2 linked regions of the Homo sapiens genome follow. The protein of the gene in region 2 interacts with the protein of the main gene of each other region in a pairwise test. Each region holds a gene or a part of one and is shown on either strand. Other genes may lie near its edges.

Region 1 (8,142 bases), on a different chromosome or scaffold from region 2:
TGAGACTCTGTCTCAATAAATAAATAAATTAAATAAGAAGGAAGATAAGAAAGTTCAAAGACCTGTAAAACTCCAGAAGAGAAAGGAGATCTTCTCTTTGGAATGAAGTTATCAGTGGTAAAGAAGAAACAAATTTTTCAATGAGCCCTTAAGTCTGGTAAGAAACGTAACATGGGGCAGGAGATAAGGGGAAGGTATGAAGGCCATTCTTAGGATTAAGGTTTTATAGAATTCTTTTAAAATCTTTAAATTGGCTGCATGTGGTGGCTCAGCAGATCATGAGGTCAGGAGTTCAAGACCAGCCTGACCAACATGGTGAAACCCCGCCTCTACTAAAAATACAAAAAAAATTTAGCCAGGTGTCGTGGTGCGCACCTGTAGTCCCAGCTACTCAGGAGGCAGAGGCAGGAGAATTGCTTGAACCTAGGAGGTGGAAGTTGCAGTGAGCCAAAATCACACCACTGCACTCCAGCCTGGGCGACAGAGGGATACTCCATCTCAAAATAACATAACATAACATAACAAACATAACATAACATAACATAAAAAACATAACACCACACAACATAACAATAAAAATGAAAACTTTAAATTTTTTTTTTACTGCTCCTTGCAGAGCAGGGATAACCCATAGGCAGCGTAACCAGAGTAGCCAGGTTTTATAGAATGTTTTCTCCTCAAATTGAAATATTGAATTGTTAAATATGAGTGGATAGCCAGGCATGGTGACTCATGCCTGTAATCCTAGCACTTTAGGAGGCCAAGGCATGAGGACTGCTTGGGCCCAGGAGTTCAAGACCAGCCTGAGCAAAAATTAAAAAAAAAAAAATTAGCCAGGCATGATCCTGTGGGCTGGGCGTCTGGGGTCTTAGCTACTCGGGAGGCGGAGGTGGGAGATGGAGAATCATTTGCACCCAGGGAGGTTGAGGCTGCAGTGAGCCGTGACTGCACCACTGCACTCCAGTCTGGACAACAGAGAGAGGCCCTGTCTGAAAGGGAAAAAGAAAAAAAAAAAAGGCAGGGGCAATGGTGCAGTGGCTCACGCCTGTAATCCCAGGACTTTGGGAGGTTGAGGCAGGCAGATCACCTGGGGTGAGGAATTTGAGACCAGCCTGGCCAACATGGTGAAACCCCATCTCTACTAAATATATAAAAATTAGGCCGGGCATGGTGGCTCATGTCTGTAATCCCAGCACTTTGGGAGGCCGAGGAGGGCGGATCACGAGGTCAGCAGTTCGAGACTAGCCTGGACAACATAGTGAAACCCTGTCTCCACTAAAAATACAAAAATTAGCCAGGTGTGGTGGCGTGCACCTGTAATCCCAGCTACTGAGGAGGCTGAGGCAGGAGAATCCCTTGAATCCAGGAGGCGGAGGTTGCAGTGAGCTGAGACCATGTCATTGCGTTCCAGCCTGGGTGACAGAGTGAGACTCCATCTCAAAAAAATAAAAATATAAATATAAAAATTAGCCAGGCATGGTGGTGCACGCCTGTAGTCCTAACTACCTGGGAGGCTGAGGCAGGAGAATCACTTGAACCCAGGAGGCGCAGGTTGCAGTCAGCCAAGATTGTGAGACTGCACTCCAGACTCCAGCCTGGGCAACAGAGTGAGACGCCATCTCTTTAAAAAAAAAGAAAGAGTGGGTGACATCAAAGCCCTTTATTTTATTTATTTATTTATTTAGAGACAGAGTTTTGTTCTTGTTGCCCAGGCTGGAGTGCAATGGCGTGATCTCAGCTCACCACAACTTCTGCCTCCCAGATTCAAGCAATTCTCCTGCCTCAGCTTCCCGAGTAGCTGAGATTACAGGCATGCGCCACAATGCCTGGCTAATTTTATATTTTTAGTAGAGACGGGGTTTTACCATGTTGGTCAGGCTGGTCTCAAACTCCTGACCTCAGGTGATCCACCTACTTCAGCCTCCCAAAGTGTTGGGATTACAGGCGTCAGCCACTGCACCCAGCCATCAAAGCCCTTTAGAGCAACCCAGAATTTTGTTTTTTTCTCTTAAGAACTATTTAAAAGAGTATCTTATTTACTTTCAATTAACATTTTGGTTCCTTGAACAGCATGGCATAGCCATTAGAGGGAAAAAGAAAGGATTTGAATCCAGAATAAGTAAGCAGGAATCACTGCTTCTGGCTACGCCTAGACTGTATAGTCCGGCAGATAATAAACTTCCTCACTCACTCAAGAGTTGTTGGGAAGATAATGCTAGATTACACAAAGCTCCCAGGATAGTACCTTGCACAATGTGGTGGGCGATCATCAATATATATTTCTTCCTCCCCAATCCCTACTCACCCAGAGTAGGCATTTAACAAATAGTTTGTGAAAAAATGGGACAGATGTGGTGGATCACACCTGCAATCTTAGCACTTTGGGAGGTCAAGGTGTCAGGAACTCCACTTGAGGCCAGGAGTTCAAGACCAACCTGGGCAACAGGCAGGTTGTGTATTTTTTTTTTTTTTTTTTTTTTGAGCCGGAGTCTCGCTCTGTCGCCCAGGCTGGAGTGCAGTGGCGTGACCTCGGCTCACTGCAACCTCCGCCTCCCGGGTTCAAGTAATTCTCCTACCTCGGCCTCCAGGGTAGCTAGGATTATAGGTGCATGCCACCACACCCGGCTAATATTTTGTATTTTAGTAGAGACAGGGTTTCACCGTTTTGCCCAGGCTGGTCGCAAACTCCTGAGCTCAGGCAATCCGCCTGCCTCAGCCGCCCAAACTCCCAGGATTACAGGCATAAGCCACCGTGCCTGGCCTATTTTTTTTTTTTTTTTTTTTTGAGATAGGGTCTTGCTCTGTTGACCAGGCTAGACTGCGGTGGCACCGTTATAGCTCATTGAAACCTCAAACTCTTGGGACCCAATGATCCTTCCACCTCAGCCTCCAGAGTAGCTAGGACTATAAGCGTCACTTTACAATTTTTTTTTTAGTGGCAACATAGTTTGATAAGAAGAGAACTACAGTCATAAAAAAATGGAATCATGTCCACTGCAGCAACATGGATGGAGTTGGAGGCCACCATTATCCTAAGTGAACTAACTCACAAACAGAAAACCAAATACTGCATGTTCTTACCTATAAGTGGGATGGAAATAATAGACACTTGGGACTCCAAAAACAAGGACAGGGAAGAGAATGAAGGTTGAAAAATACAATGTTCAGGCTGGGTGTGGTGGCTCACGCCTGTAATCCCAGCACTTTGGGGGGCCAAGGCAGGAGGATCATGAAGTCAGGAGATTGAGACCATCCTGGCTAACACGGTGAAACCTCGTGTCTACTAAAAATACAAAAAATTAGCCAGGCGTGGTGGCAGGTGCCTGTAGTCCCAGCTACTTGGGAGGCTGAGGGAGGAGAATGGTGTGAACCCAGGAGGCGGAGCTTGCAGTGAGCCGAGATCGCGCCACTGCACTCCAACCTGGGTGACAGAACAAGACACTGTCTCAGAAAAAAAAAAAAAAACAATGTTAAGACACAGATACAACATTCTTTATCTGTATCTGTTCTGTCAGATACAAGGTTCACTGTGTAATGGATACAATAGAAGCCCAATCCCCACCAGTACACAATATACCCATGTAACAAACATTCCCATGTACTGCCTGAATTGAAAGTTAAATTAAAATTTGTTTAAAAAAGAAGAGAATTACTTGCCCTCATCCCTTGAAATTATGAAGAGAGATTTCTTACAGTTTCTGAGGCAGTAAATAAAAAATTCTAAGAAGAGTGATATAATTCTTACCCTTCTGTAAATCTTCCTTAAGAGACTTGACCTGCAAAAGCAGAGGGCTGAAAAAGAAAGCAACAAGAGAGTTGGGATACCGTGAACAGTAACTCCCTAGCAACCTTCATCCCCGACAAAAGGCAAATAGGTCACTCTGGCCATTCTGTGACTTACAGCACAACAACGGGAGAAAGCTCCCTCAGAAACAAAGAAACTCGGCCAGGTGCGGTGGCTCACGCCTGTAATCCCAGCACTTTGGGAGGCCGAGGCAGGTGGACCACGAGGTCAGGAGATCGAGACCATCCTGGCTAACACGGTGAAACCCCTTCTCTACTAAAAAATAGAAAAAATTAGGCCGGGTGTGGTGGCTCATGCCTGTAATCCCAGCACTTTGGGAGGCCGAGACGGGCGGATCATGAGGTCAGGAGATCGAGACCATCCTGGCTAACACAGTGAAACCCCGTCTCTCCTAAAAATACAAAAAAATTAGCCGGGCATAGTGGTGGGCGCCTGTAGTCCCAGCTACTTGGGAGGCTGAGGCAGGAGAATGGCGTGAACCCGGGAGGTGGAGCTTGCAGTGAGCCAAGATTGTGCCACTGCACTCCAGCCTGGGCGACAGAGCAAGACTCCGTCTCACAAAAAAAAAAAAAGAAACAAAGAAACTCCATACGCACTAAAGGAAATGGACAAATGCTACAGAACCTTTCAGTTGTCATCTCAGCTTTAAAACCAGAAAGAGGCTGGGCTCGGTGGCTCATGCCTATAATCCCAACACTTTGGGAGGCCAAGGCAGGTGGATCACCTGAGGTCAGGAGTTCGAGACCAGCCTGGCCAACATGACGAAACCCTGTCTCTATTAAAAATACAAAAATTAGCCAGGTGTGGTGGCCCACACCTGTAGTTCCAGCTACTCGACAGGCTGAGGCAGAAGAGTCACTTGAACCCAGGAGGCAGAGGTTGCAGTGAGCCGAGGTGGCACCACTGCACTCCAGCCTGGGTGACAGAGCGAGACTCTGTCTCTTAAAAAAAAAAAAAAAAAAAAAAGGCTGGGCGCGGCAAGGTAGCTCATGCCTGTAATCCTAGCACTTTAAGAGGCCAAGGCAGGCGGATCACGAGGTCAGGAGTTCGAAACCAGCCTGACCAACATGGTGAAACCCCGTCTCTACTAAAAATACAAAAATTAGCCAAGCATGGTGGCACGCGCCTGTAATCCCAGCTACTCAGGAGGCTGAGGCAGGAGAATGGCTTGAACCCGGAAGACAGAGATTGCAGTGAGCCAAGATCCCACCACTGCACTTCAGCCTGGGTGACAGAGTGAGATTTCATCTCAAAAAAAACAAAAAAAAACAAAAAAAACAAAAAAAACGGCTCGGTATGGTGGCTCATGCCTGTAATCTCAGCACTTTGGGAGGCCTAGCAGGATGGATGACTTGAGACAAGCCTGGACAATATGGTGAAACCCCATCTCTACTAAAAAACACAAAAATTAGGCCAGGTGCGGTGCCTCATACCTGTAATCCCAGCACATTGGGAGGCCAAGGCCAGTGGATTACCTGAGGTCAGGAGTTCAAGACCAGCCTGGGCAACATGGTGAAACCCTGTCTCTACCAAAAATGCAAAATTAGCTGGGCGTGATGGCGCATGCCTGTAATCTCAGCTACTCGGGAGGCTGAGCCTGTAATCTCAGCTACTCAGGAGGCTGAGGCAGGACAATCACTTGGGGCTGGGAGGCAGAGGTTGCAGTGAGCTGAGATTACACAACTGCACTCTAGCCTGGGTGACAGAGCTAGACTCCATCTCAAAAAAAAAAAAACGAAGGAATGGACCACTTTTGAAAAATTATTTGTTGATCAAATCCTAGAAGGCATGATCATTTTTTTTTAAGACAGGGTCCCTCTATGTTGCCCAGGCTGGTCTCGAACTCCCGGGCTCAAATGACCTACCCACCTCAGCCTCCCAAAGTGCTGGAATTACAGGATTGAGCCATCACAGCATGAGCATTTTGAAAGGCAAAGAGAGCTATCTGCCTTGGACATCATTTGGAAACAGTGAATTGCCCAGTTCCATGGATCCTATGAGACACTCACCTGTATTCATCGTTGGGGTGTGCAATCTCTACAATGTCTCCAAGCTTGATGTGAGGGAACACTTTGGGGTTCACAACTAGCTCATCATCTGAAAGACAATTCAGCCACTTCAAGTAGAAAAACACTCATTAGGTACACTGTATGTTCTCATACTGGTTCCTCACAACCCCATCAGGATGGTATTGCCACCCCATTGACAGATGAGGTTCTATTTTGAAACGAGGCTTACAATGACTAATGGATTCACACAGGAACACCAAGCTACACAGCAGCAGAGTGGGATGGCGCTCAGGTACCTTTGTCTCCATACCCTGTGCCCTTTCTACTACCGCACTGCTTCCAGGGGCAGAGCAGCCCTTAGTATCTGGGAATTAGGCTTCTGGACAGCCTTTTACCCCCTCAAATATTGTGTATCTGGCATATAACAGGAACAAAACAGGCTGGTTCCCACAGATACAGCACAATTCGTTACAGTTATTCAATGTTCAAAGAATTTCCCAAACAGTGTCTTAATGTGACCGTCACAATAAATCTTTAGATCTAACAGGAGTAAGAAAATAACCTCAGAGAGTCCAGGAGCAGTGGCTCATGCCTGTAATCCCAATACTTTGAGAGGCCGAGATGGACAGATCACCTGAGGTCAGGAGTTCAAGACCAGCCTGGCGAACATGGCGAAACCCCGTCTCTACTAAAAATACAAAAATTAGCCAGGTGTGGTGGTGGGAGCCTGTAATCCCAGCTACTTGGGAGCCTGAGGCAGGAGAATCACTTGAACCCGGGAGGCAGAGGTTACAGTGAGCCGAAATCACACCACTGCACTCCAGCCTGAGTGACAGAAAGAGACTGCATCTCAAAAAAATAAATAAATAAAATAAGAGGGATGTGGTTTCATGTTTATCTACCCCTGCCCCTCTACTAGGGATGGGGAGAACTCTATCAAATATTGCAAACTCAGAAGCATAAAGACAGAATGACTGTTTTGCTGTTTTAATTTGCAAGGAAAGACATCACCTTTAATTATGCTAATATCATGACAATTAAGTTTATCTAGATTTCAAATATAATCAGACCCAACAAAAATTTAGCCTAGTAAAATGAAACATTGGCTTACTCCCAAATTTTTTTGTTTTCTTTTAGAGATAAGGTCTTGCTGTTGCCTAGGCTGGCGTACAGTGGCTATTTACAGGGACAATCCCACTGCTGATCAGCACAGGAGTTTTGACCTGCTCTGTTCCCAACCTGAGGTGGTTCACACTTCCTAAGGCAAGCTGGTGGTCCCCCACTCCTGGGAGGTCACTATATTGATGCAGAACTTAGTGCAGACACCCAATCAGCATAATGTACTATAGTCTGGAACTCCTGGGCCCAAGTGATCCTCCTGTCCCAGCCTCTTGAGTAGCTGTGACTACAGGCATACACCACTGCACCCAGCAATCCCTAATTTTATTTGCTATGTTTCCACTGACAGTTTCACGACAAATGCTCTTTGGAGCTTCCTCCCTAATTTACATAGTCTGAATTAAGGTCCCTGAGAACATATCCCCTTCTGCTTGGTTTTATCATTTCCTTTTTGCATGTCTATCTTACCAAACTGAAAACTCTTTAGGGACAAAGAACCTTGTGGCATTCATAATCATTACGTCTGGCACAGGTATACACCTAATAAATATCTGTTGGTTGTTTCTTTTTTTTTTATTATTTTTTATTTTTTTAAAGACAGGGTCTTGCTCTATTGCCCAGGCTGGAGTGTAGTGGCATGATCTCGGCTCACTGCAACCTCTGCCTCCTGGGTTCAAGCAATTCTCGTGCCTCAGCCTCCCTAGTAGCTGAGATTACAGGCACGCACCACCACACCTGGCTAATTTTTGTATTTTTAGTAGAGATGGGGTTTCACTATGTTGGCCAGGCTGGTCCTGAACTCCTGACCTCATGTGATCTGCCCACCTTGACCTTCCAAAATGCCAGGATTACAGTCATGAGCTACCATGTCCAGCTGTTAGTTGTATTTTGACCTATAGTCTTGCAGAAGACTGGATACAGCATCTAACTACCTTTGTATTTTATACATAAAAACATGTATTTGTATACGTTGTATATACTGTATCCTTGTATTCTTTTCTCTGCCAAAAGTTATTTGCTTTATTCCACTCCACAAATATTTAGGCAACATCAACAGCATCAAAGTAATAACAATAGACTGTGCATTTTAGCAGAAATTGTAGTTTAAATATAGCAATGCCTGTAGCCTGGTAATTACAATGGCTACATTTATTGAGCACAGAGTCTAACACTCTGCTAAATGCATTACATGTATCACTTTACTTAAGC
Region 2 (7,924 bases):
TATGTATTATATAATATGTATTATATATAATATATAATAAATATATAATAAATAAATAATAAATATATAAGAAAATAATATATAATATATAATATATATTATAATATATATAATATATAATAAACATAATAAATATAAATATATCTAATAAATATATATATTTATTTCTGGACTTGCTTGATTGTCCATCTCCCTGGCCAGTACCTAAGCATCTTGTCTTAGTCACCACTGCAGCCGCACAGCTCAGACAATGCACGTGGAAAACAGGTGGATGTAAAGATTTCTTGAAAGCAGCAATTTAACAAACTCTGATCTGATGCCTCCCCTATGCTCTTTCACTACACCACGCTGCTTCCCAGGAAAAGGATAAATGTGTGTACAGTTCGTCATTCTCTCCTAACAGATTCAAAGGTCCATGGCTCATCTGCTTCTTCTTCATGTACTACAAAGCCCAGCACCTTGTAAATGCAAGGTAAAAAGGAGGAAACAAATGAGCGCAAAGTAACCACCATAAAAGGTAAATAAGAAAGGAAAGGTAGTTGATGGTCATGGAGAAACTACTCAGTTGTATTCAACGGCATCTGACCATTCAGCGGTCAATCCTTCTTTTGTTTCCTACGCGTCTATATGCCCAAGCCACAGTTAGACGTTTCGAAGGAGATAAAAATGAATTCCAGTTGTGGAATTAACAGAAGAATTTGTGAAGGAGGTAGCGGTCGAAATGGTTAAACTGAATACTCATAGACAGGTAACAGGCTCATTGCCTGTGAACTCCTGAAAGACAAGAACTGTAACATATTTTATTTACCTTGGTGTCTTAAATGCCTAACAAAACGTCCAGAACATAAAGGCATTTGGCAAATGTTAAACAAACTTGGGAGAGGCAAGGCATTCCAGCAGAAGGAAGAAGTCAATAAAATACACAGATGACAGAATACAGGACATATACCAGCACCAGTAAATAGTGAGGACTGGCTGGTAAAAAGCGTTCATGAAAGCAAGTGCAAGAAAGGCTCGTTAAAAGAAATGGCAAGAAATAAAGTGAGAAAGTAGGATAGGGCCGAGACACAGAATGCCATGAATGACTGAGGGGTTTAGATTTTCAATGAGAGACCACTGAAGACTTTTTTTTTTTTTTTTTTTTTTTTTGAGATGGAGTTTTGCTCTTGTTGCAAAGGAAGGAGTGCAGTGGCCCGATCTCGGCTCACTGCAACCTCTGCTTCCAAGGTTCAAGCGATTTTTCCGCCTCAGCCTCCTGAGTAACTGGGATTACAGGCACCTGCCACTATGCCCGGTTAATTTTTTGTATTTTTAGTAGAGACGGGCTTTCATCATGTTGGTCAGGCTGGTCTCAAACTCCTAACCTCAGGTGATCCGCTCACCTTGGCCTCCCAAAGTGCTGGGATTACAGGCGTGAGCCACCGTGCCGGGCCCACTGAAGACTTTATACAGCAAAAGGTGGCTTGAGGAGACTAATAAGAGCCCCCTGCTCATATCAATCAATCAATCTACCATGGCTTCACCCAAACTGCCTGCAATTCTACCATTAGAAATTTTTATTTTAGGCCAGGCGCAGTGGCTCACGCCTGTAATCCCAGAACTGTGGGAGGCCTAGGCGGGAGGATTGCGAGGTCAGGAGTTCAAGACCAGCCTGGTCAATATGGTGAAACCCCATCTCTACTAAAAAATACAAAAATTAGCCGGGTGTGGTGGCGCGTGCCTGTAATCCCAGCTACTCGGGAGGCTGAGACAGAAGAATCGCTAGAACCTGGGAGGTGGAGGTTACAGTGAGCCGAGATTGGCCACCGCACTCCAGCCTGGGCAATACAGTGAGATTTCGTCTCCAAAAAAAAAAAAAAAAAAAAAAGAAAGAAAGAAAGAGATTATTATTTTAAGGCATATCCTCTGTACGAATCTTCCTAATATCCAAATTATCCTGTGAGGCAATAGAAAATGTTGTCGTCATTCATTTATACTTCTGTGTAAAACGGATAATCAGTTTGCCCTCTCCTGGCTAGCGAGTAGCCACTAAGGAGATGGGAATTTTGAATGCAGATGAAAGTTTAACTTTTTGACTTCGAGGCACTGCCTTGGAAAGATAAAGTCTGGAGTACAAAAAGAAAAAAGAGGTTAACTGGTCCATGCCTTTCCTTGAGAGCCAACCCTGTTCTTTCAGCAAGCAGAATTGAGTAAAGATGAAGAGAAGACATCAGAATCTCCCTTAGTGAGAATTAAATTTTGATGACCCAGAAGGTAAGAAATAATATGATACACTGAACATTTTTCAGAAATTAAAAAAATGGTTCTGTAGCATGTAGACACTCATAACTTTATAATCTGTTTAGTTTTCCTCAGAAATGGTAAAGACTTTACCTAAATCACATCCAATCACTTCATGAACGGTGACTGACAATACCAATTCAAGGAATACGATGGGGCAAGAAGAAGAAGAAATTTATAAAGACAATGCCGAAAATCCACCCAAATGGTGTTACGAACCAGAAATGATCATCAGGATGGTACCAGCCACACGATAACCCTGAGAACTCCATCCAGGTTTAATGGAAACCGGGTCCTCCATCTGGACGGGTTTCAGCTTGGTAAATCCTGATTCTAGGCCACAGAGGGCTCATCTTGCCGGCTAGCTGGGCGGCAGGCTGCGCGGAAAACGCCAGGAAGTATTTCCCGGGGCGCCCACAAGGGACCCCCGGCTCCCTGCGGAGCTGGGGTGGGGCGGGCACTCACCGCTTGTCGATGGCGTCGATGTTTGAATGGAGGAGCCACAGCTCCTCCGTATTGTCCTGCCGGGAGGACAGGATCAAGTGGTGGCCCGTCAGGCACAGGGTGCCCTCGACAGCCGGGTAGAAAGGCCGGTGCAGCACCACATTGTCCACCCGCGGGGTCTTAATCAGCTCCGCAAACTCCATGCTCCCCCGCGGCCGGAGCCAGGGAACCGAGCCCGGTAGGTGCGAGGCGGTTACCCCGCCGCAGGGAAGTAGCGGAAACACCCGGCGCGGGGCTGGCCCGTGGGGCGGGGCGGGCCGGGCGGTGAGGCTGGGCCCGCCCCAGGCTGGGTGGGCGCGGCGAGGCCTACAGCCGCCGGCACCGGCCGCGGGGAGACAGGGGCTGGGGCTGGACGAGGCCCAAGCGCCTCTCCCGCACCGCGCGGTTCACCAGGCCTAGGACTCGGCCACAGAGAACCCCTCTCCACAGGCCCAAGGACCGCCGCTGCCGTTGGGCTCCGGGTCCCGCGTTGGCAAGCGGAGGGCAGTAGGAGAAAGCCGCCTCAGAATCCGCTTCCACGCCCTGGCCGCTAGGGACTCCTAGCGGAAGTGGCTACTCGCTGCTGGAGCCCACAACAACTCCGGGCGGAAGCAGCAGGTCTCGAAACTCGGAAGACGCGGAAGTCGCAGCCGGAAGTTGGTCCTCGCTAGGTCCTCTGGAAATGCCTCCGGAAACACAGCCAGACCAGAAGATGTGTGTTCCTACGAGAAAAAAAGCTTGTCTTTGCCTTCACGCCCTCCCGCTGCCTTTCTTAACCACCTACAAATATTCCTTATCAGAAGAGGTCCGGGAAGAGGGAGGAGGTCCCTGTCTTGCCTTCCTCCGCTTGAGTAGTATCCCCTCCAGAAGCTCTTCAGAGCGTGGGGCTGCTGTAAATTGTGATAATTGTTATGCATTAGCCCTGAAGACATGGCAAGTAGGGGATGGAGGCGGTGACTGTGACCTTACGGAATCCTCCAGGGGTCAGGGAGGGACACAGGGCCACTCCACAGGCTCTCCGAGAGCGCCGCGCCACGAGGTGTAACCTGGAGCAAGAAAGAGGAAAAACAGGAATACCTGTGAGAGGAACCCAAGTACATGCAGTGCACAGAAGAGCAAGTCACTTGACTTGCTGGCGGCCACCCCGTTAATCTGCAGCAGAGCCTGGACTTCAGTCTGCATCTGTGAAACCCAGCGCATGGGTGCGTTGGTCACCACCGCACAGCCTCCCCGTCAGACACCCACGTTTCGCCAAAAATTTATTCAAATAATTACTCCTTTGCTTGTTCCTTTCCCACCGCCCACTTCTGACATTTTTATTCAAAAGTAGGAAATAGAAGAGAAATATGTTTGAGTGCTGGTCTGCTGTGACTTCATTGACCTTTTAAATCCTCACCATCTAGTACCTAAGCACAGCGAGTTGGACAAACTCTCACAGTATTCACAAAGTAAATTGCCACAACCTCATCAGCTCATCCAACACTTGTCCATGCTTTTGATTTTGTCCTTCTTAAAATGTACCCTTCTTAAAATAAACCACTTTATAGACTTGTTTTAAGTGAGATACGTAAATGCCTACCAACTTTCCTTGGTGTCTTTGTTGCATAGTTACTGTAGACTGAATAATAGTTGCCATTTTTTATATTTTTGCAGTTTAATTGCTTTCGTCCAAATAGATGGAATCACTTCCTTTGTAATATATGAAGTGTTTTAATTCATTTTTATAACTAGCATTCCTGACAGCACAGGTATCCACCCCCTGAAGTTCCCATTCTATAGAACAAAATAGCAAATAAGTATTTTTTTTTTGTTCCATAATGGACACCCAGTATACACCCAGTATACACAGGGACACCGCATACAGGGAATCAGCTTTATTTTACAACAGAGCTTCACTTTACCCCTCTGGCAATTAATAGATTCTGGGTATTTATTAAGAACTTTAAATTTAATGCAAAGACTGTTAAATACCACCAGCTCAGCTCTGGCAAAGGACTGTTGGCTTTGTTTATCTCCTATCTTCATCCAGATACACTGCCATCCCTATCCCAGCCCGATCTTGGGTCCTTGAAAAAAATGACCTATCATTCCAACTACCAGGGAGGAACTCCCTTTGAATTAATGAATCTGGATGACTTATAAGACTTCAAAAGTATGGAAATGACAAAGGTTAAAATGACAGGATGAGCAGTAAACCCTCTCCAGTCCAATCAGAGCAACCTTTTTGAGGGTGCATTCCCACAGAAACCCATTAGGGGCCCAACATCAACATACACAGAGCTAAAATTCCAGATGCCACTTTGTATTGAAAGAAGCCAAAATTCTGTTCAGGTCGTGGGAACTTGAAGTCTTCAATGCAACCACACCCCAGAAATTAACCCTCACACAATCATGTAAGCTATGCAATTAACCAAACTGCATCGTTTAGAAAACCTGTATGCTTTTCATGGAAACCATCCCTAGTTAAGGGCACTTTAAAGGATGCACAGTCTAAGTACTGTGAAGGTGGGCCCACTAGCTGGGTTGACATTTTCGCTTGGCCACTTTAGTAGGAAACTTAACCACTTGGGAAAGTGAAAACAACAAGCTAACCCACATGTTCACCATGGAAAACAATTTTTGTCTTGAAAAACAAGGAACCTTTTCCCTGTGCAGCACCAGTTCCTACTGTGTTTACCAGCCAATTGGACTGGAACCTGTACACTTGGTTTTTAGCCTCCGAAATCAATATAGCTCCCGGCCGGGCGCAGTTTCTCACGCCTATAATCCCAGCACTTTGGGAGGCCGAGGCAGGCGGATCACCTGAGGTCAGGAGTTCGAGACCAGCCTGGCCAACATGCTGAAACCCTGTTTCTACTAAAAATACAAAAAATTAGCCGGGTATGGTGGCGCACACCTGTAATCCCAGCTACTCTGGAGACTGAGACAGGAGAATCACTTGAACCCTGGAGACAGAGGTTGCAGTGAGCCAAGACTGAGCCACTGTGCTCCAGCCTGGGTGACAGAGGGAGACTGTCTCAAAACAAACAAACTATATATATATGTGTATATATATATATATATTTAGAGAGAGAGAGGGAGAGCTCTCAACAACCAATCCCTCATTATACCTTTAACTGCAACCGCCAGACACAAATGAGCAATCCAACTCAAACGCCTTTTTGTTGGGCTAGGAATAACAGTGAGAGCAGGAACGGGAGTTACCGGGCTTGCAACTTCCCTATACTGTTACCAGCACTTTCCAAGGATTTTGTGGAAAGCTTGGATGACATTGCCCAAAGTATCGTCACAACACAAACTCAAACAGACTCCTTGGCAGCAGTTGCTTTACAAAATAGAAGGGGACTGGATCTCCTAACTGCTGGAAAAGGTGGCTTATGTCTTTTTCTAGAGGAAGAATGCTGTTTTTATGTCAACCAATTAGAATTAGTAAGGGATGCCACCCAGAAATTAGCTGACCAGGCTTCTAAGATACGACAACAGCTGTCCAAGTCGTGGTCCTCCTGTTCAAAAATGCTAATTAGGGGTTCATGAGTCCTTCCTCTGACTGGCTCGTTGTTAATTATACTTGCCTTGGTTTTTGGACCATATTTATTAAATACATTAACCAAATTAATTTCCTCTCGCCTAGAGACCATCAAGCTTCAGATGATCATGCAACAAGGTTTCCAGCCAGTTCAGGTGAAGACACCACTACTGGCCATCAAGAAGCTACCCTGTATCCACTAGACAGAGCAGAGTGAGAGTTCTGTGATCCCAAATAGGTAGGCACCGCACCCCAAGTCAGCATGAAGCAGTTACAGAAGAAAGACCATTGGTCCCTCTGCCTCCCATAAAGATTTATGGGGATCATGTCTCACAGCGGGAAAATGAGACAGGAGAATAGGGTCTAGAGGCAGGGAACCTAAGGCCAATTCTCACTGACTTCCTAGAACTGAATCAGAGGGGAAACCCCACCTCTTCACACGAATGTAACGAAAGGATCAGAGGCTACTCCCTTTGCACTGCACTGCAAATGAAAAATGGAAAGTACCTCTGATTGGTCCCCTCCCACAACCATTCAGACTGGTTGCAGGCCAAGTCTTCATGTGTAACTTTGTAACTACCGTCACTTCAGACTCTGATTGGTCACCTCCCATGATCAGTCAGACTTGTGACGGGCCACTCCTTCATTTACATAGGGTGTAACCAAGTAACCAATGGGAAACCTCTAGAGGCTATTTAAACCCCATGCTGCACGATGGCTCACACCTGTAATCCCACCACTTTGGGAGGCTGAGGAGGGTGGATCACAAGGTTAGGAGTTCCAGACTAGCCTGGCCAACCGACATGGTGAAACCCTATCTCTACTAAAATTACAAAAATTAGCCAGGTGTGGTGTGGGCCTGTAATCCCAGCTATTGGGGAGGCTGAAGCAGGAGAATTGCTTGAACCTGGGAGGTGTAGGTTGCAGTGAGCCAAGAATGTGCCACCGCACTCCAGCCTGGGTGACAGAACAAGACTCCGCCTCAAAAAAATAAAAAAATTAAGCCCCAGAAAATTCTGTAACCAGCGCTCTTGAGCCACTTGCTTGAGCCCGCTCCCGCTCTGTGGAGTGTACTTTTGTTTCAGTAAATCTATGCTTTTGTCGCTTCACTTTTTTGTTGCTTTGTTTGTGAATTTTGTCCAATTCTTTGTTCAAAATGCCAAGAACCTGGGTGATTTGTAGTCAGTACTCTCCACCAGTAACAATAATATTGTTGCACCTGAGAGTCCAGTCTAAAAACAAGAACCAACAGAGTAGGGAAGATGAGGGGGGATGATTTACAAAGTTATTTTTTTAAACTGGAGTTTTTGACTTTCTTCATTTATGTGGATAAGTTATAACAATTACCAATTGTGGAATGAAGAATTTAATTACAGAGTGAAGAATCAGGGAACGTTTTATGGAGAAGGTATCATTTGAAAACAGGACCTTGAAGGATGAGGGTCACACTCTGAATGGAATGTGGCCGACAGAGATGTCCAATTTAGTGATATCTCCTAGAGGTGGGGATGCATTTTTCAGTAATTCCATTACCTTTTTCTTTTAGTTTCTTTATGTGGGGGGAGGCACATGAAAAGCTCATGGTTTCATTAAGTGAAAAATGTTTACTTTTCTATAACACCATGAACTTTTTTG

What was found. The genes of interacting proteins can lie anywhere in the genome.
Region 1: the proteins of MTMR9 (region 2) and DEPDC5 interact in binary tests that used the Homo sapiens proteins (3 or more experiments, as listed by UniProt).

Annotation. Positions count from the first base shown.
Region 1 is NC_000022.11:31,756,306-31,764,447, reverse strand, and holds part of DEPDC5 (GATOR1 complex protein DEPDC5), read right to left. Parts: intron 5,903-8,142; coding exon 5,815-5,902; intron 3,793-5,814; coding exon 3,746-3,792; intron 1-3,745. UniProt on the Homo sapiens protein: As a component of the GATOR1 complex functions as an inhibitor of the amino acid-sensing branch of the mTORC1 pathway.
Region 2 is NC_000008.11:11,279,892-11,287,815, reverse strand, and holds the start of MTMR9 (myotubularin-related protein 9), read right to left. Parts: upstream 3,001-7,924; 5' UTR 2,928-3,000; coding exon 2,746-2,927; intron 1-2,745. UniProt on the Homo sapiens protein: Acts as an adapter for myotubularin-related phosphatases. Increases lipid phosphatase MTMR6 catalytic activity, specifically towards phosphatidylinositol 3,5-bisphosphate and MTMR6 binding affinity for phosphorylated phosphatidylinositols.